3 linked regions of the Homo sapiens genome follow. The protein of the gene in region 2 interacts with the protein of the main gene of each other region in a pairwise test. Each region holds a gene or a part of one and is shown on either strand. Other genes may lie near its edges.

Region 1 (8,812 bases), on a different chromosome or scaffold from region 2:
TGAATATATAATATTGTATCTGTTCCCTGATTGATGGACATTTAGGTTTTTTCCTGATGTTTTGCTATTGTAAACAAAGCTGCAATAAACACCTTGTACATGTCTCTTTATGCAAGACTGTGTCTAGAACAGTGGTTCCCCAAGAAGATGTTGCTGCCCGTTTTAGGGTGTTTTGGAATTTGTGAAGATGTATTTTGTTATTCTTTGATTGGAGGCACTACTGGGGTTTACAGATCAGGACTGCGGATACTGGATGTTCTGTAATGTATGGGACAGTCCTCACAACGAAGAATTGTCCTGCATCCTGTGCAAATTTTGAGTATCCCACAGGATACTCATTTATAATTATCTGAGTGTAGAGCCTAACTCCGGTTTTTGTATAAACATAATGTATTTTTTGGCACAGTTTAATATAGTAAAATTTCCAGGAATGCAACTCTAATGTAAATCAGAGGAAAATTATACTTATTTGTGGTTTGGAACTTTAACAAGAGTTGTTCATCACTCTAGCAAATCACATAACTGAAGGCAGCACAGCTCGTGGTATTTGAGTTGCCAGAACAACACACCTGCATAGTCTGCATTTGAAGCTTTTGCATTCATGGTGATTCTAAGTTTAGGTGCAAGCATCTGACTACTGTACTTCATTATGTATTCTAGTGTAGTCAGCCTGAACATTTGTATATTTAAACATATGCTATTTCATTACGAATTACTTTCCATTTAAAATCAACTTCTGTATATCATATAGAGATCTAGTTTTATTCTTTTCCTATTGGAGAATCATTTGTCCCAACACTATCTATGAAGTTCTTTACCCATTGAATCATAAAGCCAACTCTGTGCTGTAGGAAGTTCTCACAAATGCATGGATCTGTTTCTGGGTTCTTGATTTTATACCACTGGGCCATGTGTCTTTGTGCCACTATCACACTGTTTTAATTACTTTGGTTTTTCAATGTGTCTTGCGGCAGTTGGTAACAAGAAAGGCAAGTTGCCATCCTAGTTCTCAAAATTGTTTTGGCTATTCTTGGGTTTTTGCTCTTCCATATGAATTTAGGATCCGTTTTCAAGTTCCACAAAAAATTGTTTTTAGACTTTGGTTAGGATTGCATTGAATTTATAGGTTAAGGAAAATTGAGATTTTTTTAATTGAACCATCCCATCCGGGAACACAGGTTATTTCTCTGTTCAGGTCTGCTTTATTTCTTTATTCAGGTCCTCTCTCTCTCTTTTTTTTTTTTTTGTCTTTGATAAAGTTTTATAATTTTAGCTATACAAATCTTACTCATCTTTTATATTCATATTTATGCAGATATATATATATATATACACACATATCCACATCTTTTTATTATGAAAGTTTAAAATATATTCAGAAATATAGAAAATAGGCTAGCAAACATCTACACACTCATCACCCAGCTTCAACAACTAGCTCATGACCAGTCTTGTTTCATGTCAGCCCCTTCACCTCCTCTCACTGAGGTAATAGAAAGCTCCTAGAAACCCTTTTCTGTTATCTGTAATGTGCTACGTGTGTATGCATATATCTTTATCATAAATAATCTTTTAACAATATAATAATATCATCTTTTTAATAGTGTTTTTTCACTGAAAATACAAACAGTAATTTCATAATATTATCAAATATCTGAATATTCTTCAGATTTCCCCAATCATTTCATAAAAGGTTTTTGCAATGCTTCGTTCGAATCAGGACCAAATAAGGGTCCATATACTACACATGGCTGATACATCTCTTAATATTCTTTCTGTAAACATTTTAGTGAAGGGTAATACACATACAGAAAAGTATATAAATCCTAAGTGCATGGTTAGATACAACATCACCGTATGAACAAACCCAGGTGAACAAAACCCAGATCAAGAAACAGAATTTTATCAGCATCTCCCTGAACCTCCTACAGTCACTATGTTTCACAAGCCAACCATACGCCTGACCTCCAGCCCCTAAAATTAGTTTGACCTGTTTTGAACATTATATAAATGGACTCATATACTATGAACTCTTTAGCCTCTAGCTTTTTTCATTTAATATTTGTGAAATTCATCCACATTGTTGAGTATAGTTGTAGTGTGTTCTTTCTCATTGCTTTATACTATTCTCATTGCTTTATACTACATAATGCTTTATATACTGTATGAATGAATAGATTGTAGAGTACTATATCCACTCTATTGGCAGATATTTGGATTGTTTAAGGTTTTAGCTATTTCAGGTAGGGCTGCAATGTCTTTTTTTTGAATTTAGGTGTGCGTTTCTGTTGGGAATACACCTAAGAATAGAAGAGCTGGATGTAGGATGCATTTATATTTAGCTTTATTAGATACTGCCAATAGTCTCCAAAGCAGTGGTTAACAAATTATGGCCCTTGCCAGCCGTATATGAGGGTTCCAGTTACTCCACATCTTTGTCAACACTTGCTGTTGTCTGTTGTTTTCATGTTAGCCATTCTGGTGGGTATATGAAGGCACTGAATTTGGTTTTAATTTGCAATTTCCGGATGACTAATGAAGTTGAGCACCTTTTTACATATTTATTCTCATTCAGGTATCCTCTTTCTCAAGTGTTTATTCTTTTTTTATCTGCTTGATCTATCAGTTTCTGAGACATATATTAAAATCTCCTGCTAAATTAGTGGTTTTATACATTTATTGTAGTACTTCTGTCAGTTTTGGCTTTATATATTTGGAGGTTTTGTTGTTAGGTTCACATTTGTTTCAGGTTGTATCTTTTTACTGAATGGTTCCTTTTGTCACTGTTCTTAATATTTTTCAGAGCTTTACATCTGTTTTGCGTGGTACTAATATTGCTTCATAGCTTATATTTTATTTTGTTTCACTTGGTTTTTTTTCAACTGTGGCTTATAAAAAAACAAAAACAAAAACAAAAAAACAGAATTTCCTGTCTTAACCATTTTTAAGAGTGCAGATCAGCAGTGTTAAGTATATTCACAGTGTTGTGAAACAGAGCTCCAAGATGCTTTCATCTTGCAAAACTGAAACTCTATACTCATTCACCATCTCCCTATTCCCTCCTTCCCTGGTTTTTGTCTTGTTAATATTTGCTTTGCATGTCTTTCTCAATCTCTTTATTTTCAGCCTCTCATTATACTTTCTGTAGAGCTTTTGTACACAGCTATTTTTAAAAAGAAAAATCTAAGAGAATTTCTTTTAGTAGTCAAATATAATGTTTCCATGTACTATGATTACTGTTGTATTTGGGTTTATTTTTACAATCTTATTTTGTATTTTCCATTTTCCTTGCGTATTCTTTGTTCTGCCACCCACCTCACACCCACTGACCCTTGCCCCACTTTCTGTTTTCTTTATTTTTTTTTCACTTTACTAGTATAGAAGCTATTTTTTCTATTTCTGTTGCTTGCTGTTTACCTGTATGTTTTTTTAACTTGTGTACTTAGCTTAAAAAACATATACCTCCTCCAAAACAAAATCACTGTAGAATGCTTTAACTTTGAACTATCCTTTTCCATCTACCATATAACTGTTGAGTAATATTTAGTCCTTTCTGATTTTTAACCCCTCAAAAATTGTCATTATTACAGAAATCTTTACTGTCAATATTTCTTAATAATTTTCTCACCATGCTTCCTGTATCTCATACCTCCTTTCTTGGTTCATTTTCCTTCTTGCTGAAGTATGTCTCTGAGTAGCCCTTTCACTGAGGATCCTTGAGAGGTGTACTACATTTCACCCTTTGTATGTCTGAAAACATCTTTGTTTTACACTTACTCTTGAGGGAGTCTTGCATGCCAGCCTGTGGGTTTAGTTTTGTCTCTGCTGGGATCCAATGGGTTCTCACTTTTAGTCTAGTTTTCATGTTAATCTTTCTATTTGGGATTCCCATATCACATCGGTAGTATTGAATCTCACACATGGATATGATGTGAGGTGGGGATTCAGATTTCTCTTGGGCTGTTGTTTTTTGACCTGTGGCCTGAAGCACTCAGCCAGCTTCCTTCCAACTAAGTCAGTAGCAAATTATTTAGACCCTATTTCAAAAACTGGTCAATCCTGTGAGGGCCCAGCTTTCTGCATTGTTCTCATTGCTAGTTCTTTGCCATCGTGGGCTTGAGACCTTATCTGCCCTGAAGAGAATCACCCTGAAGGTCTGTATCAGGCACCAGGACCCTCGTAGACTTTTAGGCTCAGCTCAGGCCTTGAGTTACATTTTTTTATAGCACTTAATGATTTTTCTTTATTGCTTTCGAGCTCTGCTGTGTACTAAATTCTTCTTGTTCTATTTTATTGAACATTTATGTGTTTGCTGTTGTATGAGGCACTTCCCTTGTTAACTTCCATCCAGCATATTGACCAGAGGTTACAGTCATCTTTCTAAAACTCCATATGATCCTTTCACTCCCTCACCTGATGTTTGTGGACTTGTTAGCACTGTGTCATTTATTCCTCCCACAGATACTTGTTGTGCATAATCTCTGTGCTAAGAACTGGGGTTACCACAGTGAGAAAGATATCAGGTCTCTGCCTTCGTGGAGTTTACTATTCTAGTTGGACAGACAGAAAATAAACTTGTAAACAAATAAATGAAAATATTAACTAGTTTTGTGAAAAATGCTCTGAAGGAAATAGAGTGATGGAGAGTCAGTGTTTGAGGGGTTACTTTAGAGAAGACACTCGGGGAAGACCTCACTGAAGAGTGACATTTAAGCAGAAATCAGAAGGCTGAGGAAAGCCAGTCCTACAAATAGTAGCAGGAGTGCTTGGGGTTGAGGGCTAGTTCCAGGCAGTGGAAACAGCAAGTACAAAGACCCAGAGATGGGGAAACCCCGGGCGTGTTAGAGTGACCGAGATGGCGCCCATGTGGCCCTAATGAGGGCAGACTGCTCCCCAGAGAAGTTAGGCATGCAGGTGGGCCCCAGGTCCCATCTCCCCTCACTCTGTCATCTTTTCACTCTGATTCTTTCCTAAATGTGCCTGTGCAGAGTATTTCCTTTGTAAAGCCCCTCTCACTATTGCAGTTCCCACTGCACTTCGCTTTTACCATTAATCAGAATGTAATATGGACACTTGTTTTCAGGACAATGTTCTCCAATAGACCTTGAGCTTCTGTCAGAAGATATCTTATTCACCTTTGGCATCCCCAGCTTGTAGCGCAGTGCTTTACATGGTGGGAACATCATAAATGTTGATTCAATAAACGTATTTTTTTTACCAGTTCATGCTTAGACCCTCCTTTCCAATAACTTTATAACTTCTCATAGCTAATATTTTCGTGGTATTTAAACCATAAGGGTAAAGAAAACCAGCAACCTAGAGGAATGTGTTTGCTTAAGACTTGTCTCCAATGCTGAAAAGGAAAACCAGGAGAGGTAGTGTGGTGTGCTGTTCCTCTGCTGTGAGTTGAATGGTGGTCCCCAAAAATATATGTCCGCATCCTCACCCCTGGAATCTGTGACCATGACCTTGTTTGACAAAAGGGTCTTTGCAGATTTAATTAAGTTAAGCATCTCAAGATAATACTAGATTATTTGTACAGACCCTAAATCCAATGACAAGTACCGTTATAAGAGACAGAAAATGTGAAGACAGACACAGGAGAATGCCATGGGAAGATGGAGGCAGAGACTGGAGTTGTGAGTTAAAAGCCAGTGAATGGTGCCTGGAGCTACCAGAAGATGGAAGAGGCAGGGAAAGATTCTCCCCTAGAGCACTGATCCCCAATCTTTTTGGTACCAGGGACTGGTTTCATGGAAGACAGTTTTTCCACAGGGGGATGCAGGGGGGTGGTTTCCGGATGAAACTGTTCCACCTCAGATCTTCAGGCATTAGATTCTCATAAGGAGCCTGCAACCTAGATGCTTCGCACGTGCAGTCCACACTAGGGTTCGTGCTCCTGTGAGAACCTAATGCCGCTGCCACTGATAGGACAGGAGGCGAAGCTCAGGTGGTAAGGCTGGCTTGCCTGCTGCTCACCTCCTCCTGTGCGGCCCAGTTCCTAAAAGGCCATGGACCAGTACCAGTCCATGGCCCAGGGGTTGGGGACCCCTGCCCTAGAGCCTTTGGAGGGAGCACAGCCCTGCTGACACCTTTATTTTGGATTGCTGGCCTGTGAGAAAATAAATTTCTATTTTGAGCTGCTAATTAGGAAACTAATAGATACCCCATCGCGCTTATATCTCACTTACCCATCCTGTAACATGGCTATAGTAATACCTTTCTCAGAAGCTTCGCTCCGGGATTCAATGAGATATGTTTGTACGGCACTTAGCACACAGTGAATGTTCAAAAATAGTGATGGCTGTTCCTCTTCTTTAAGGACTGGGAGTTTTCATCCTCTTGAATAAGAACTCGACAACAGAGTGGGAACTTTCTGTCTTGTGATCCATTGCCTGGTGAGTCACAGCTCACACCATGGATTTAACCTGAGAGCTTCAACTTCTGCTTTGGCCCTGGAGTTCCCATGCCCTGGTGTCTTCTACCAGTTCTTAGGTAGGGTTTTATATTCAGAGAGGGTTCAGCTTTCTCCCGTGGGCTGGGGGAAGAGGTCAAAGTAGAACTCAGGTACCAAATTTGAAAGGAAACACTCAGAAAAAACTTCTGAGCGCAGAGCGGAAAACACCCTCTCAGTCCCCACCAAAGAGAAAGGCTTTGGGTTCTAAATTTCCAGTTTCCATTAAGGGACTCTGGGACTGGACATTTCTGAAAATTAATGACCTGTACTGAGTAATCCTCCTAACACACTGATCATCAAAAAATAACCTGTAATGAGTTTAGGCTTTCTGTATTTGTCTGAATGCTTTCACGGGAGTGTGTTGCACTGGAGCACAGAGGACACTCGATCGTGCGGCGCGCAGGGCGGGGGGCCGCCGCTGCCTCCCCGCGGGATGGCTGGCACTGTGCTCGGAGTCGGTGCGGGCGTGTTCATCTTAGCCCTGCTCTGGGTGGCAGTGCTGCTGCTGTGTGTGCTGCTGTCCAGAGCCTCCGGGGCGGCGAGGTAAGGCATTCTGTCCAACTGGGAGTCCTAGGTAAAGCAATTAGAGGCAAAATCGCTGATGCTCACTAAACATTTAGAATTTAAGAGATCAGTTTTGTAATTACTGGCAGTTTGAATGAGTTGCATTTTAACCTCTTTTTATAAACACTAACTGTGTTATTTATGCTCTGGAGCAGAGATGGGAGGAGAAGGAAGTAGTGTTCTTGAGTTCTAACTGTGGCAAGAAACTCTGCTTTCACTGCTTATTGAGTTTCTTGAGGCTGTATGTGTATGTGTTTATGAATTGTTCAGATTTATGGCAGAGGCTTGGTCCAGTACCCGAGGCTCTAGCCCTGGACCCAGGAAAACGAAAGCAACATTTGATGAGTTGGGCCTGCTTTCTATATCAGGCATTGCCTTCAGAACAGGGTTAGGCCATAAACCGACTCTGAAAACACTAGAGTTGCACTCTGGCAAGACAGTGTTAGTATGAAGCAGAGAGTTGTAGAATTTTCTAAAGTATTCTGTTCTAAAAACAACAGAAGTGGAGGTGGAGAGGGGATGCTTTGGTTTTTCTTGATTATGACTTTGGGCAGAAGTAAAAATAAAAACTACACATTTCCATTCTTAGGAATTGGGAATTACCAAGAATAAATGGGAATGCACCCAGCTGGTACCTGTCTAGGAAGAAGGACTTTGGGATGAAGAGGTTGTTGACAGCAGGCCTCTGGACATTGTTAAGGGACTGAAACATAGAATATTGGCTCCAAGGAAGAGACTGTCCAGACCTAACTGATCAAAGAAGAAATTATAGACAGTGCTTTTAATAATTTGTCTTTTTAACCCCAGGTTCTCTGTCATTTTTTTATTCTTCGGTGCTGTGATCATCACATCAGTTCTGTTGCTTTTCCCGCGAGCTGGTGAATTCCCAGCCCCAGAAGTGGAAGTTAAGGTAAAGCTGTTGCTTTCGTTTTGCCTCCTGAGCTGTGATTCTTATTTCTCTTGGTCTGCACATCCGTCCTGCCCTTGATGTTCCCTGACATCGGGTTGCCTGAGATGTCAGAATTGTAAAGTTCAACCAATGACGGGGAAAGTTCAGAGGGAGTTTTAAGTTCCCCTGCCCCTTCACTCAGGAAAAGAATCTTACTCTGAATTCCATCTACAACCCCACCAGGCAGTTATTTGCCTGATTTGGTCTCATCTTCAGTTTGCATCAAGTTGAAAACAGCCTGTTGGAAAGCCACCTCGTACCATGGGGACAGAAAAAAAAGAAAATGAAATAGGGATAGTCACAGGCCTGCACCCGAGATGAAGTGTTCCCATTCCTGGCAGCCTGGGCTCCTAACTGCAGATCCTGGGCTGAAATTGATGTGGTGCCCTGAGGGTGCTGAGGACATGCTTCTCCAACTGCATGTGCTAGAATTTTCCCAACAGTCTTCTGGGAGTTCTTTGGTCCTCATACCTGGGACCATACCTGCCAGCACCCATGTCTTTAAATGGATTTTTATCATCTCTCTCAGAATCCTTCTCTGGAGTTCTTTACCATGGCTTTACCATGCATGGCTGGTCTCAGACCCATGGGATCTTGACAATGACATTGACCTTTTCTGTCCCATTACTCCTTCTCACAGCTTTCCTCTCAACCTTCATTTTGATGTTTTAAGTGATAGTCATGAAAATAGCTAACATTCTTTAAGGGATTTCCGTGTGCCAGGTCCTGTGCCAAACACTTTGTTTGCACTGTCTCATTTAAACCTCAGGACAGCCCTAAGTAGTATGACATAGGTACCATTATTATCCCCATTTTATAGGTAAGAACACTGAGTCTGTCAG
Region 2 (8,970 bases):
TTTGCCGGGATTTCCCTCAGTAGACCCAGGCTTTAAGACTCTACGGGGTTCATTCCTGCATTAATTGTGATATTTAGTCAAATGTGATAGATGTTCAGAGTGTATAACACTGGGGTAAAAAAGTTTGTGTGAGAATTAGAACTAATTTTGAAGACCTACTTTGCCATTTACTAACCACATAACTTTGGGCAAGTTATTTAACAGTTCTAGGGCGTATCTCTGAAATAAAGATAAGAATAATGCCAAGTGCATGAGATTGTTATGAGAATTAAATGTAATCATGCATGTTCTAATTCGTGTTAAAAGCTCAATATATATAAATGTTATTGTTAGGAGAGACTTAAAATCCTGTGGCAGGAGCCAGATCCTGAAATGAAAGACGAGTTTCTGAGATTAATACCAGCTGCTTATTGAAAGCAAAGATGATGGTTTGGACTTCAAGTTTATACAAGCTTATAGAAGGGTCCAGTAGCCTTCAAGAAGCACTCAACTGCAGTGAGCAAGGGAGGAAGGGGTAAGGGAGCCAGGGTTCTAGTAGCTTCTAGAAATTGACTGAAATAGAGAAGCAGTAAGGGCCTGAGTACTGATAACATTGATGATTCATTCAGGTGTTAACTCAGAATCGATAAAGTGAGATCCCCAGAACATTTGCTCTGTATCATTCTGCAGTGGATGCTAGAATGAGGTAGAGCAATAGTGCTCTACCTCAGCACTGTTGGCATTTTGGACTGGAAAATTCCTTGTTGTGGTGAGAGCCACCTTTTTGCACTGTAGAATGTTTGCAACATTTGTGATCTCTATCTACAAGATGCCATTACCGTCTTCCAAGTCATGATATCCAAAAATGTCTGTAATAGCAAAAAGGTGGAAGCAAGTAAAATATCCATCAGCTGATGAATGGATAAGCAAAACATCATCTAGCCATATAGTAACTCTTATTCAGCCATAAAAAAATGAGGTACTGGCTGGGTGCGGTGGCTCATGCCTGCAATCCCAGCACTTTGGGAGGCTGAGGTGGGCAGATCACTTGAGGTCAGGAGTTCAAGACCAGCCTGGCCAACATGGTGAGACCCTGTCTCTACTGAAAATACAAAAATTAGCTGGGCATGGTGGTGTGGACGCCTGTAATCCCAGCTACTCTGGAGGGGGAGGCAGGAGAATCACTTGAACCCCGGGGTGGAGGTAGCAGTGAACCGAGATTGTGCCACTGTACTCCGGTCTGGGCAACAGAGCCAGACTCTGTCTCTCAAAAAAAAAAAAAAAAGGTACTGATACATGCCACAACATGGATGAACCTTGAAAACATGTAAAGTTTAAGAAGCCAGACAACAAAGGCCATATATTGCATTTTTCTACTTACATGAAATATCCAGAGTGGCCAAATGAATGAAGACAGGATACAGAGCAGTGGTTGTCAGGGGGTTAGAGGAGAGGGGACTTGAGAGTGACTGCTTAATCAGTATGGGGTTTCCTTTTGGGCTGATGAAAATATTCCGGAATTAGATAGTGGTAATGATTACACAACGTTGTGAGTGTACTAAATGCCGCTGAATTGTACACTTCAACATGGTTAAAATTGTGTATGTTATGTGTGTTTTAAAATAAAAAAGAAAATACCTCCAGACATTGCCAAATGTTCTCTACAGGGCAAGATCACCCCCTACTGAAAACCACTGACCTATCTCAAGAAAGGAGAAGGCTTATGAGGAAGCCTATAAAATTGTTGTCTGAAAGCCTGATTGATGCAAGGGATAAATTTGTAGAAAGCAGTTGTACTTGAGTTCTTAAACTGGCTTAAAGAATCCAGGTGAGCCCTTGAGGAGGGCTTAAAACATAACATAAATAATCCCTTAGCTCAAAGACAGTTTAAAAATGTGAGGCTTGGCTGGAAGAGAGGAAGTTGACAAACACTTTCAATATGCCTAATCTCCACCAATATTTGGAAATCAGCTCTAAGATAAGACCATTGCTTGGTGATTCTGTCTGCTGGGAACTAACAAAGCAACTGTTCAATAAACCATGTGATCTGGGCATGAAATACAAAATGCCCAAGTCATGACAGTTTTCAGTGTTCCTACAGTAGACTAGGCAGTGTGAATGAGGAGAAAGAAGCTGTAACACTGACATTACCAGCTCTTCTCAAAAAGGAATCCGAACTGGAGCCAGTGGGGAAGGATCTTCCAGAGAACAAGAAAGAAGAACTGTAAAGAAAGAGTTGGAAAATGCTGCCTGTAAGAAGATTTGACACAACCTTGAACAGTGTGACTAAGTCAAAGATGTGGACTCTGCCGTTAAATCCTATCAATCAAGCCGTGATATGCTTTGAAAAAATCAGCTACAATAAACCCTAAGAGCTTTGTGAGAAGGCCATTGAAGTTGGAAGAAAAAACAGACTGGTCTAAAGATAGAGAGTAAAAGCTTTTGCCCAAGTTGGCATCTCTTACTTCAAAGAGGAGAAATACGAGAATACTATTCATTTCTATAATAAATCTTTGGAAGAGCACTGAACCCCAGATATACACAAGAATCGTCAATAGTTAGGAATTAATCTGGAAAGAGCAAAATCAGTTGGCATATATAAAATCTGACCTGATTTTGGAGGAGAAGAGTAAAGGCATTGAGTGGTTTCAGAAATGGAACTATCTCCAAGCCATGCCAGCTTTATACAGAAGCCATCAAATGGCATCCTCCACAGGATGCCAAATTCTACAGCAGTTATATCCAAAGTGTACAGCCAGAGCTGGAGGAGTAGAAGAAATATCTAGCTAGATCCACCCTTAACACAGATTATACTTAGAAAGCAGCAGCCTTAGAATCTGAAGGATGACACAAAAGCCATGAATGTCTAGCAGAAGGCCCTAGACCTGTAATTCTACCGTAAAGAAGTAGCAGATGGTTATTGGTGCCCAGTTCAATTGATATGACAACGCTAAGGATGTGAAGCAAAAAACCATAGCTATATGACATATCCTAAAACAAATGCAGAAGGGCTCCCAGGGACTCAGTGAATATTTAAAAGGGTCCTGTGGAAGCTTAGAAAATCAAGAACTTCATGAATATGGGTCTGATCACACTTTGGTGATGGTTTCTTGAGCTCTTTTTCCTTCCTCATCACTTCTGGAAAGAGGAGCTGGGACTGCAATGAGCAGAATGGAGCAAAAGTCTGGAGAGAAGAGGAAAAGCTGAATTGTATATATGTTTACACATTCATGCATGGAAAATTCAGAGATGGACACTTGCGTTCTTTGTACAGCTACAGTTTTATGGCCCTCTTAGCACAAGCATGGTCTCGTCACTCCTGACAAATTGGGCTATGTGTCCTTCCCAAAACCCGCAGTCACTGGCTTAACTGTTCTCCCCATGATTCGTGATTTTAAATTTTGGACAATGCACATGTTGGGGAGGGAAGATATTTATCCCAACTGTTCAGTCTACATTGATAATTTGTACCTTTCCCCCTTCTGCATAAAAGTCCCACAGAAAATGGGGGTGAGTATAGAGGAAAAACACGAAGGCTCTGAGTAGATTCCTGAAGAAGAGGTGGGCTTTGAACAGATTGAGAGAATCAGCCATCAAAAAACCTAGAGGACATTTACTTGCCCAGGAATTTATGAACAATCAAATTTAACTTGGGGTGTAAGCATATTAAAGGAGAATTGTATGCAAGCATGCAAAGTGTCTAGTGCTACATGTTATATAACTATGTAGCACTAGACACTGTGACCCAACTTCCAGGAAGCTGCTTGAACTTAGGAAACTATTTCTCAGCCTCCGGGATGAATAAAACTAAGTGCATAACCACTGAAGGATGATTCTGAAAGACATTTTAAAATTCTGCATTGAGGCCAGGCACAGTGGCTCACATTTGTAATCCCAGCACTTTGGGAAGCCGAAGTGGGTGGATCTCTTGAGGTCAAGAGATCACCAAGCCTGGCCAACATGGTGAAACCCCATCTCTACCAAAAAATACAAAAATTAGCTGGTCATGGTGTGTACCTGTAATCTCAGCTACTCAGGAGGCTAAGGCATGAAAATCTCTTGAACCCGGGAGGCAGAGATTGCATAAGCCAAGATTGTGCCACTGTACTCCATCCTGGGCAACACAATGAGACCCTATCTGGAAAAAAAAAAAAATCTCAGATTGAAACAAAACAAACATCCAGGCCGGGCATGGTGGCTCACACCTGTAATCCCAGTACTTTGGGAGGCCAAGGTGGGTGGATTACTTGAGGTTAGGAGTTCAAGACCAGCCTGGCCAACATGGTGAAACCCTATCTCTACTAAAAATAACAAAAATTATCTGGGCGAGATGGCATGCACCTGTAATCCCAGCTACTCGGGAGGGTGAGGCATGAGAATTGCTTGAACCCAGGAGGTGTAGGTTGCAGTGAGCTGAAATAGCACCATTGCACTCCAGCCTGGGGGAACAGAGTGACACTCTGTCTCAAAAAAAAAAAAAAGAAAAGAAAAACATCCACCTGGGATTACAGGTGTGAGCCACCGTGCCCAACCAAAAACATCAATAAATATTGATTGATATTTTGAAAATCTTAATTTTCAAGTCCTTAATTCACACACTATTTGTTTTTTTACTATAAAGTTTAATTTTTTAAAAACCATAATGTCGGCCGGGCGCAGTGGCTCACGCCTGTAATCCCAGCACTTTGGGAGGCTGAGGCAGCCAAATCATGAGATTAGGAGTTCGAGACCAGCCTGGCCAACATGGTGAAACACCGTCTCCACTGAAAATACAAAAATGAGCAAGGTGTGGTGGCACACACCTGTAATCCCAGCTACTCAGGATGCCGAGGCAGGAGAATTGCTTGAACCCGGGAGGCAGAGTTTGCAGTGAGTCAAGCCGAGATTGTGCCACTGCATTGCAGCCTGGGCGACAGAACAAGACTCTGTCTCAAAAAAAAACAAAAAAAAAAACCATAATGTTGCCATGGCTATTTTAGTGGGGGGTTTTTTGTTTGTTTTGTTTTTTTTAGTATTTTTGTTGGGCTCAGTGGCTCACACCTGTAATCCCAACACTTTGGGAGGCCAAGGTGGGCAGAACACTTGAGCTCAGGAGTTCGAGACCAGCCTGGGGAACATGGCAAAACCCCCATCTCTACAAAATACAAAAATTAGCCAGGTGCGGTGGTGTGTGCCTATAGTCCCAGCTACTTCAGAGGCTAAAATGGAAGGATCACTTGAGCCCAGGAGGCTGAGGCTGCAACGAGCCATGAGCATGCCACTGCACTCCAGCCTGGATGACAGAGCAAGATCCTATCTCAAAAAAAAAAAAAAAGGTATTTTCAAATAAGCAGAAAAGTTAATGATTATCACTGTTCTAGTTATCCATTTCTGTGTAACAAATCATCTTAAACTTAGTGGCTTAAAACAAACAAGCCTATGTTTTGCTCAAGCATTCTGTGGGTTAGGTATTTGCAGTTGCCGTGAAGGGAAAAGCTTGTTTCTGTTCTTCAATGTCTGGGGCCTAAGCTAGGAAGTCTCAAAGGCAAAGGATAACTCAACAGCTGGATCTGCAGTTATCTGAAGGTTTGCTCACTCACATGTCACTTGGTACTAGCTGTTGTCTGGGACCTCCATTAGGGTTGTTGGCAGGTGCACTTACACATGGCCTCACTGTGTGGCTACTTGGCCTTCCTTGTGTCATGGTGCCATTCTTCCAAATATGAGCAACCTGGGGAAAGAAAGGCAGAAGCTGTACTGTTATGACCTAGCCTCAGAAGTCACTTTGCATCATTTCTATAGGAGTCACCAGCCCTCTGAATTTCAGGGGAAAGAAACAGATCCTGTCTCTTAATGAAGAAGGTCAAAGATACATTTCATAAGAAGAGCATGTGGGATTAGAGATTGCAGCCATTCTGGAATGCCAAAACCATTAAGCTAGATACATTTTTAGTCTAGTTTTCAAATATTCAACCAAATCTTAATTTGTTACAACCGTAGAAGCCAGGAAGGTTTATTTATAATACAGATGCTCTCCATTTCCTATATGTGCCTGTAAACACTTTTATAAATTGTTCTTATAAATAAGTATATACCATAAGGTTAAACAAATAATAATTGTACCAAGTAAAATTGATACTTAAAAAGAAACTAGAGTAGCGTTCTTAAAGTAAATAGACATTCCTGTTTATCTGCATTATAGTAAGTAGGGTGTGTGTGTGTGTGTGTCTTGTTTTGTTTTTAAAGCAAGTCTGTCAGTAATACACTGCCTGGCAGCAATTCTTGGTTGCCTTTTCTTAGTTCGTTGTAAGTTTTTTGAGTAGCCTTGTATCGAGGTTCTTTTGATGCTAAGCAGCTACTAGCCTACTAAGAATATTTCTATTTCCTTCCCTCTCTTTGTGCCTTAACAGATCCGAGCAGTTGGCAGACTAAAAAGAGAGCGGTCTATGAGTGAAAATGCTGTTCGCCAAAATGGACAGCTGGTCAGAAATGATTCTCTGTGAGTAGAAGCACTAGCATTTTATCTCGTTTGTAAGTTTTCTCAGGATATTTTCTGTACCCATGTTTTTCTAAATAATTACTTCATGTAGTTTTTAAAATTTGTTTTACATCAATTTTATATTTTTGTAATACTTTTTGTAATCTTAAAATCTGGCCATTTTGTTGGTCCTGAGAATTTTTCAGTCACCTTATCCTTTCCTGTGTAGTATGATTTGCTAATTAAGTTGTCATAAGATGGTGAACTGGTCCTTTCCAGCTTTGCTTCTAATGAGCTATGTTAAACAGTGTAGCAAGACAAATAGAATTTTTTTCTTTCCAAAAGTATTTTTTAGCTTTCTCCCTTACGATTCATTGAATTTTTTGGTCCTTTTCATTTTCAGAACATACAAGTATGTTGTTTAAAAGACTATTTGTTTAAACCTTTCTTTTTCATTTGGTTGTATTATCAAATTCTGATCTTAAAGCTACCACAAGATTATTAATGTCAGTGCTTTTTTACTTTTTTATTAAAATTAATGGATTTTTACAAACAAAATGTTCTTCGAAAACTGGTCAGAATTTTAATCAGAAAGTCATTGTCAGTAGTGGCTTTTTAAATATAAATTAATATTTCTTCCTCATTAATGTTTTGGCCAATTTTCGTAAACTCATGAACCACATGTGATGGCAAGTATCATGTAAGCGTCTGTGGAAACTGAAAGAATCAGGAGATGATACATCTCTTCTGAGAGCTAGCAAATCTAAATAGAAGCAAAGCATTTAATTTTATTTACAAAATAACTAGAGGACAATACAGTGATTTATATTACAGCATATTAATCTCTAGTTTGGACCTCTCTAAAGAGTATAGGGGTACAGAAGGGGTTTTGTTGGGGTTAGGGTCATTGATATTAAAGGTAGAGAGAGGTTTTTTTTTTTTCAAATCCTTGCTTTGAAAGAACAAGGAAGTTCTAATTTCTATATAAATTATTTGCTTGCCTTACTGAAATTCCATTCTCTTGTGTTAGGTGAAAGGAGAACTAAAACTGCTCTGATTTCTTATAGAATATTGAAATATCTCCTAAGGTAGTTAAAATTATTCTGAAAGGCTGTGTAGGAAGAGAGCAGGTTAAAATGAATATATATCTCCTTCAGGGAATGCTTATGCAAGATTCAACCATTAGTAATATAAAATTTTTTGATTGTGTTTTCCCTAAAGGTATCTGGTTAGCAGTGATGTCAGCAGGCCCATGAAATCCATTTTTTCTAGACTATTTCCAAATGTATTACACAAACGGTAAAGAGGCTGTATCATTTATGGCTAAGGTGGCTTCTTGATCTGCTTTAGAGTGATTAAACATACACTCAAGAGCTTTAATTATTTTCTTTTTGTAACATTATCCTAAGGCAACAAAGATTTCTAGTAAGCTTTTCCACTTTATAAAGATGTGGCTTACTATTTAGGTTCTTAGCTACTTTGACATTTTATATTAATAAAAACAAGATTATTGTAATATAGCACCACTCTTATTTTTTCTCCCGAAGTATATATTATTTATAGCTGCATTCAGCTGAAGAGAAAGGAAACCCCTTTATTATGTACGAAAACCAGTCCAGTGAAGTATAATTTAGAGTAGATGATATAGATGTTTTTGTATTTACTCAATAACATAAGTTCCTCATAACAGAAAAGATTTACAGTGTTAACTAATACTTGATTTTCTTTTTTTTTCTTTAAGTTGCTTTAATGACATTTTCTAAATTTTTAGTAAAACTGAAAATCTCATTTTTGATAGTAAAAGTAATGAATCTTTATACATTTTCACAGTGAAACACTTAACATTGCTTAACCATATTTTTCATTATGGTTGTAAAGTATATTACCATGTTATGTATGTATTTTGTTAATAATGTAACTTTGCCCTTTCTTTTCCTACTGTTGTTAATTTTATAATTTACAATTTATCTTTAAGAATCTACATCTTACTAACTTTAGAATTTTGTATAATGAACATATTATTCAGTGTTGTTAACGTAGTGAGGAAAAAACAATTGATATAATACCTCTATTAAAATAATTATTAAACTCTTACTATCTTTACCTACTTTAGTGTTTTCTTTGTAACATGAAATTGTTGTGCGTCATAGTGCATGAAACTTTGCCTGTCTCCACTTTATTTTATTCCATGGCTTTAAGAATAAAAGTGCGAACGGGTATGAGAGCAGGAGCACTAGCCTTTGTTTTCTTAATTACTTCGAAGAGGCAATAAGATTGTGGTCAGCTATTAGCGCAAAAGTGAATTCTAAACAGTAAAATCAGATCTAGCTTTTTCTTTGTGTTATAAAAGCTGAATATGTAAAAGAAGCATAATTATTATTTAAGGTGGCACAGATCAGATTCTGCCCCAAGAAATAAAATTTCAAGGTTCCAGGCACCGATTTCTGCACCGGAGTACACGTAAGATTTTATCTGCTCTGCTTTTGACAAGTAGTTGTTTTGATTTTGAAGGATTATGTTAATACTAATCTATT
Region 3 (5,746 bases), on a different chromosome or scaffold from region 2:
TCTCAAACTCCTGGGTTCAAGATCCTCCCATCTCAGCCTCCAAAGTGCTGGGATTACAGGTGTGAGCCACCACAGCTGGCTCCAGTATGTTCTATATTTGTAGAACACCAGGGCTCTTAGTCTCTTTTAGTTCCCCCATTTTTGGCAGAAAGTTTAGAACCGATCTCCCCATTTCTACAGCCCTGGGTCCCGGGCTGGGGATAGTGAGAGGAGCCACACAGATCCCTGTCTGTAGGACCTCCAAATCTGAGTGGGGAATCTGGACCCCTGAGAGCAGAGAGGTCATGGGTGGAGAGAGGAGACGCTGGGACAGGGACAGGTAAAGGAAGGGGAGGTTGTTGAGGGGGACATGGTGAAGGCTGGGGCTCTGGCATCCTGGACTCAGGAGAAGTGGATTCAACCTCACTTCTGGTCTCCTCCCTATTTATTTATGCCGCCCATTGCCACCACTACCACCACCACATGAGCTTTTCTTTTCAACTCTTTTTTTTTTTTTTTTGAGATGGAGTCCCGCTCTGTCGCCCAGGCTGAAGTGCAGTGGCGCAATCTTGGCTCACTGCAACATCTGCCTCCCATTTTCAAGTGATTCTCCTGCCTCAGCCTCCCGAGTAGCTGGGATTACAGGCACCTGCCACCACGCCTGGCTAATTTTTGTACTTTTAGTAGAGATGGGGTTTCACTATGTTGGCCAGGCTGGTCTCAAACTCCTGACCTCAGGTGATCCACCCACCTCGGCCTACCAAAGTGCTGGGATTACAGTGTGAGCCACTGCACCGGGCCTACATGAGCTTTTCTTTGGGGCAGCTGGGGGATGAGTGAGAGGCTTCCCACCTTTATGGTCCAGGCCTGAAGGGCTGTGGAGAAACTTGTGCTAAGGTGAAAGCTGTTCCCCTACACCTACGCCTGCTGAAATTCAAGGAAAATCAGTGAAGATGGTTCAGTCATCTTCTAGGATCCCAGTCGCAGACCCTGCTTCCAGCCCTTTCCATAGGGCCCTCTCATATTAGAGTTGGGACAGTGGGGTGGGAAGGCATGTGTCCTTTTTCTGGAAAGTGCAATTACAGCAGAAGGGGTTTGGGCTGGGTTCCAGGAAGCGCCTCTAGTCCTCCCAGTGGTGGCGAGTGGGCATGTTGCTGGCTTCACCCCTTCCTTCTGGAGTGAGAGTTGCTGGTCCTCACCCTCCCTGCCTGTTCTTCTTCCTGACAGATGTTTGGCTGTGGCTCCGTGGCCCAGGTTGTGCTCAGCCGGGGCACCCACGGTGGTTTCCTCACCATCAACCTGGCCTTTGGCTTTGCTGTCACTCTGGGCATCCTCATCGCTGGCCAGGTCTCTGGTAAGGCCTTAACCCTGCCCCCAGCCCTTGGCCCTCAATAGCATTCCCACTAGGTGTCCTGGCATTCCTAAGGGCAGGTCACAGCTGTGGCCTCTGCTTTGGCCCCTTGGGAAAGGAGGGTGGAGAAGAAACTTGACACTTAGAACTTTCGACTCTCACCTTGGAATCAGAGATTATCAGCTGACCTGTTACATAGACCAACCGCCATCCTGTGCAAGAAACCCCTCTCTGCACCCCTTCTCAGGGGACCCTAGCCTGCCGACTGTGGCAGGCTGCAGCTAATAGGTCCCTTGTCCCCTCTGCCCAGGGGCCCACCTGAACCCTGCCGTGACCTTTGCCATGTGCTTCCTGGCTCGTGAGCCCTGGATCAAGCTGCCCATCTACACCCTGGCACAGACGCTGGGAGCCTTCTTGGGTGCTGGAATAGTTTTTGGGCTGTATTATGGTAAGCATTCCCCACCCTGTCCTCCTCCACTACCCCCGTCCCTCTGTTCAGGACCTGCTGGCACCAGGCCTTTTGATGACAGACGGCTAGGACCTGCCCAGGCCCCGGGCTCATGACTCACTCATTCACGCACAGGGTCAAGGTAGGGGGCACGAAGGGAAAGAAACAAGTTGGGCAATAACAGAGTCTCAGGCCCTCCACCCCACCCCACGCCACCCCCTCTGCCTGCTGCAATACAGCAGTATTGCTACTTACCCATAACTCATGGGAGGGTGGGGAGGGCACACCTGAGAGGGAAGTCTGGGCTCAGGCCTCTCCCCCGACTCACTGTGTGTCTAATCTGTCACCAGATGCAATCTGGCACTTCGCCGACAACCAGCTTTTTGTTTCGGGCCCCAATGGCACAGCCGGCATCTTTGCTACCTACCCCTCTGGACACTTGGATATGATCAATGGCTTCTTTGACCAGGTATGGGCTGGGGACGTGTGAGGGGAACGCAGGGAGGGGACCGAGTTGCCTTGGTAGCTCATGGGCTGGTTGGGGGACAGGACTCCTCGACTGTAGCAGGGTTTCTCCAATCTGTGGGGTAACCCGCATCAGAACATGGTGGCAAGTACTTACAAAACATGCGGCTCTCCAGCGGGTTCTTGTCACGCAGACATTCTAGCACCATTGCTTTCAGGAGAAGAGCATGGGCGGGCGCTGACAAGAGTTTAAGAGCTAGAGGGAAGACGGGGGATGGAAGGAGGGGTCAGAGAAAGGGAGGGAGCTGCAGCTCACCCTGTTCTCCCCACTCCCCAGTTCATAGGCACAGCCTCCCTTATCGTGTGTGTGCTGGCCATTGTTGACCCCTACAACAACCCCGTCCCCCGAGGCCTGGAGGCCTTCACCGTGGGCCTGGTGGTCCTGGTCATTGGCACCTCCATGGGCTTCAACTCCGGCTATGCCGTCAACCCTGCCCGGGACTTTGGCCCCCGCCTTTTTACAGCCCTTGCGGGCTGGGGCTCTGCAGTCTTCACGTGAGTACAGCCCCCACCCAGCTCACCCCAGCCTGCCTCTCCTCTGCCCTGCCCCCCATGTCCCTGACTATGAGTGTCTGTCCCCCCAGGACCGGCCAGCATTGGTGGTGGGTGCCCATCGTGTCCCCACTCCTGGGCTCCATTGCGGGTGTCTTCGTGTACCAGCTGATGATCGGCTGCCACCTGGAGCAGCCCCCACCCTCCAACGAGGAAGAGAATGTGAAGCTGGCCCATGTGAAGCACAAGGAGCAGATCTGAGTGGGCAGGGGCCATCTCCCCACTCCGCTGCCCTGGCCTTGAGCATCCACTGACTGTCCAAGGGCCACTCCCAAGAAGCCCCCTTCACGATCCACCCTTTCAGGCTAAGGAGCTCCCTATCTACCCTCACCCCACGAGACAGCCCCTTCAGGATTTCCACTGGACCTTGCCCAAATAGCACCTTAGGCCACTGCCCCTAAGCTGGGGTGGAACCGGAATTTGGGTCAATACATCCTTTTGTCTCCCAAGGGAAGAGAATGGGCAGCAGGTATGTGTGTGTGTGCATGTGTGTGCATGTGTGTGCATGTGTGTGCAGGGGTGTGTGTGTGTGGGGGGGGTTCCCAGATATTCAGGGCAAGGGACCAGTCGGAAGGGATTCTGGCTATTGGGGGAGCCCAGAGACAGGGGAAGGCAGCCTGTCCATCTGTGCATAAGGAGAGGAAAGTTCCAGGGTGTGTATGTTTCAGGGGCTTCACATGGAGGAGCTGCAGATAGATATGTGTTTCTGTGTATGTGTATGTCTGCCTTTTTTTCTAAGTGGGGGCTTCTACAGGCTTTTGGGAAGTAGGGTGGATGTGGGTAGGGCTGGGAGGAGGGGGCCACAGCTTAGGTTTGGAGCTCTGGATGTACATACATAAGTAGGAGCAGTGGGACGTGTTTCTGTCATAATGCAGGCATGAAGGGTGGAGTGAAGTCAGGTCATAAGTTTCATGTTTGCTTTTGTTTTGTTTTGTTTTTAATGTATGTAGCAGATGTTACAGTCTTAGGGATCCGGGATGGGAGACCCCACTTTAGAAAGGGTCGTCACTCCTTTAATCCTCTACTCAACAATGTACTCTTTTACTTTTATATTAAAAAAAATAAAATAAATATGTGCCTAAAACCTCCAGTTGTGCAAATATCTTTCTGCTTGCTCTGCTGCTTTTCTGGGGCCAGTTAAGGAGCTTCCGCATGCCCACACTGACCCAGGGTGCCCGGCTGAGTGTCTGATCTGGTCAGGTTACCCTGGGGGTCATACAGAGAGGTTAGAGAGCCTCTTCACCAAGGCTCTCAGTTTGAACTCAGTGGTCCCAAACTTTCCCCCAAGTTTCCGTCCTCATGGGTACCCCCAGCATAATGAATGGAATCTTCTTCCCAATCCCTGTACCCACACATCACCCCAGAAAGGCTTGAGCCCTATGCAGGGAAGATCTTGCTGCAGAGCTACCCAATGGGGAGAACTGCTGCCCAGGAGGTGGTGAGTTCCCTGTTCCTGGAGGAGACCCATCAGACTGGGAACCTGTATTGTCCTCCACAACCTGCAGCTATTCAGGCTCCATAACCTCCACCCAGACCTTGGCCACAGCCCCCCTGGCAGCCTCCCTGCCTCCAGGCCTGCCCCAGTCAGTCCACAAAGCAACCAGAGGGATCTCTTCAAAACCTCTGCTGAAAGTGCCCATCTGGAGACCATCCACAATGCTCCATCTGGCGTTCAGGACCTCCAGGTAGGGTCAGGAGCCTACCCCTCCTCTCACATGGCTCCATCCACCTCAGCCTACTTTATGTGTTTCTGTGTTTTTGTGTCTTCAGACTTTGCTCCAAAGTCCCAACTCACATCTTTGCTCATTAAAGTCCTCATGATCTGCTTTAACGCCTCTTCCTCCGGGAAGCCATCCCTGCTCTGCCTCACTCTTCCAGCAACTTCTAGTCAGCTGTCTTAAGTGCCAAGACCCGCAGTTGCGTTCACGCTCATCTCCCCTTCTGCTTCATTTCTTCAGTCATTTCTTCACTTCTACAGAGGCACCTCTGTGCCCAGTAAGGCAGGGGGTTGGAAGACTGACTCTGGCGCTCTGACTTGCCCAGAAAAGCAACGGGCTCGGCACACCTGAGAACAGGAAGCTTTTCTCATTTGCTTCTTCCTTACCATACCCTCCTCAAGTTTCATCAAGGGAAACTTCATGCAATACAAGGGAAGGCATCCCCTACCCAATCCCTCCTCTGAGCGAACCCCATGGGAGCCAGAGGATCCCTGGGTGTGGCAGGCGAATTGTGGTTTTTAGAAGCTAAGCCAGCTTTTGCTCTCCAGCCTTCACAGATGAGATCATGGTCCAGAGAGGGCGGGTGGCAAACACAGGGTCACACAGCCAAGAATCTGCCTACGGAGGTGAGGGCAGGAGAAGGCAATACCATTTTAGGTTTCTATCCCTTCTTTGTCCCCAGCTCCCAAGAGGCGTGTCTGGAATGCTGGAGGGACCTGAGCCAGAGGGAGTGTCCCCTTCCCAGGCCCTGGGGGGAGGAAGGGCAAACCTTGGGAGGGGAATACGGCTGCAGAGGGTCATTCCAGCCACACCAGTCCCACCTGGGCTGCCCTCACCTTGCTGTCCTCCCCAGCATGCCCCATGTCCTTCTGTCACCCATTTCTCTCAAATCCTGCTGCTGACCCTGACCAGTCAGCCTAGGGGGTGTTGGCAGCACTTTTGGTGCTGCCACCTGGCCCAGCAAGGATTCTCTAGCTGGGTGACCTTGGGGTAGTCATGTTCTTTTCCTGAACCTCCCTTATCTGTGAATTGGGAGATATTGAGAGGAGGAAATAATGGAAGATGATTCATGGAAAGGACTTAACACAGTGATTAGCAGATGGTAAATCCTCAATAAATGTCACCTCATGATTTTTCCTGCAGAACCAGAGATGGGGGTGGGGAGGCAGTGGA

What was found.
Region 1: the proteins of MFF (region 2) and TMEM218 interact in binary tests that used the Homo sapiens proteins (3 or more experiments, as listed by UniProt).
Region 3: the proteins of MFF (region 2) and AQP3 interact in binary tests that used the Homo sapiens proteins (3 or more experiments, as listed by UniProt).

The regions. Positions count from the first base shown.
Region 1 is NC_000011.10:125,100,320-125,109,131, reverse strand, and holds part of TMEM218 (transmembrane protein 218), read left to right. Parts: intron 1-6,322; 5' UTR 6,323-6,398; exon of another isoform or gene 6,399-6,466; coding exon of another isoform or gene 6,467-6,495; intron 6,496-6,780; exon of another isoform or gene 6,781-6,814; coding exon of another isoform or gene 6,815-6,890; coding exon 6,891-7,000; intron 7,001-7,610; coding exon of another isoform or gene 7,611-7,688; intron 7,689-7,828; coding exon 7,829-7,931; intron 7,932-8,812. UniProt on the Homo sapiens protein: May be involved in ciliary biogenesis or function.
Region 2 is NC_000002.12:227,333,924-227,342,893, forward strand, and holds part of MFF (mitochondrial fission factor), read left to right. Parts: intron 1-6,368; coding exon 6,369-6,457; intron 6,458-8,821; coding exon of another isoform or gene 8,822-8,896; intron 8,897-8,970. UniProt on the Homo sapiens protein: Plays a role in mitochondrial and peroxisomal fission. Promotes the recruitment and association of the fission mediator dynamin-related protein 1 (DNM1L) to the mitochondrial surface.
Region 3 is NC_000009.12:33,439,353-33,445,098, reverse strand, and holds the end of AQP3 (aquaporin-3), read left to right. Parts: intron 1-1,206; coding exon 1,207-1,333; intron 1,334-1,640; coding exon 1,641-1,778; coding exon of another isoform or gene 1,779-1,894; exon of another isoform or gene 1,895-1,920; intron 1,921-2,128; coding exon 2,129-2,247; intron 2,248-2,580; coding exon 2,581-2,798; intron 2,799-2,887; coding exon 2,888-3,056; coding exon of another isoform or gene 3,057-3,109; 3' UTR 3,110-3,939; downstream 3,940-5,746. UniProt on the Homo sapiens protein: Aquaglyceroporins form homotetrameric transmembrane channels, with each monomer independently mediating glycerol and water transport across the plasma membrane along their osmotic gradient. Could also be permeable to urea.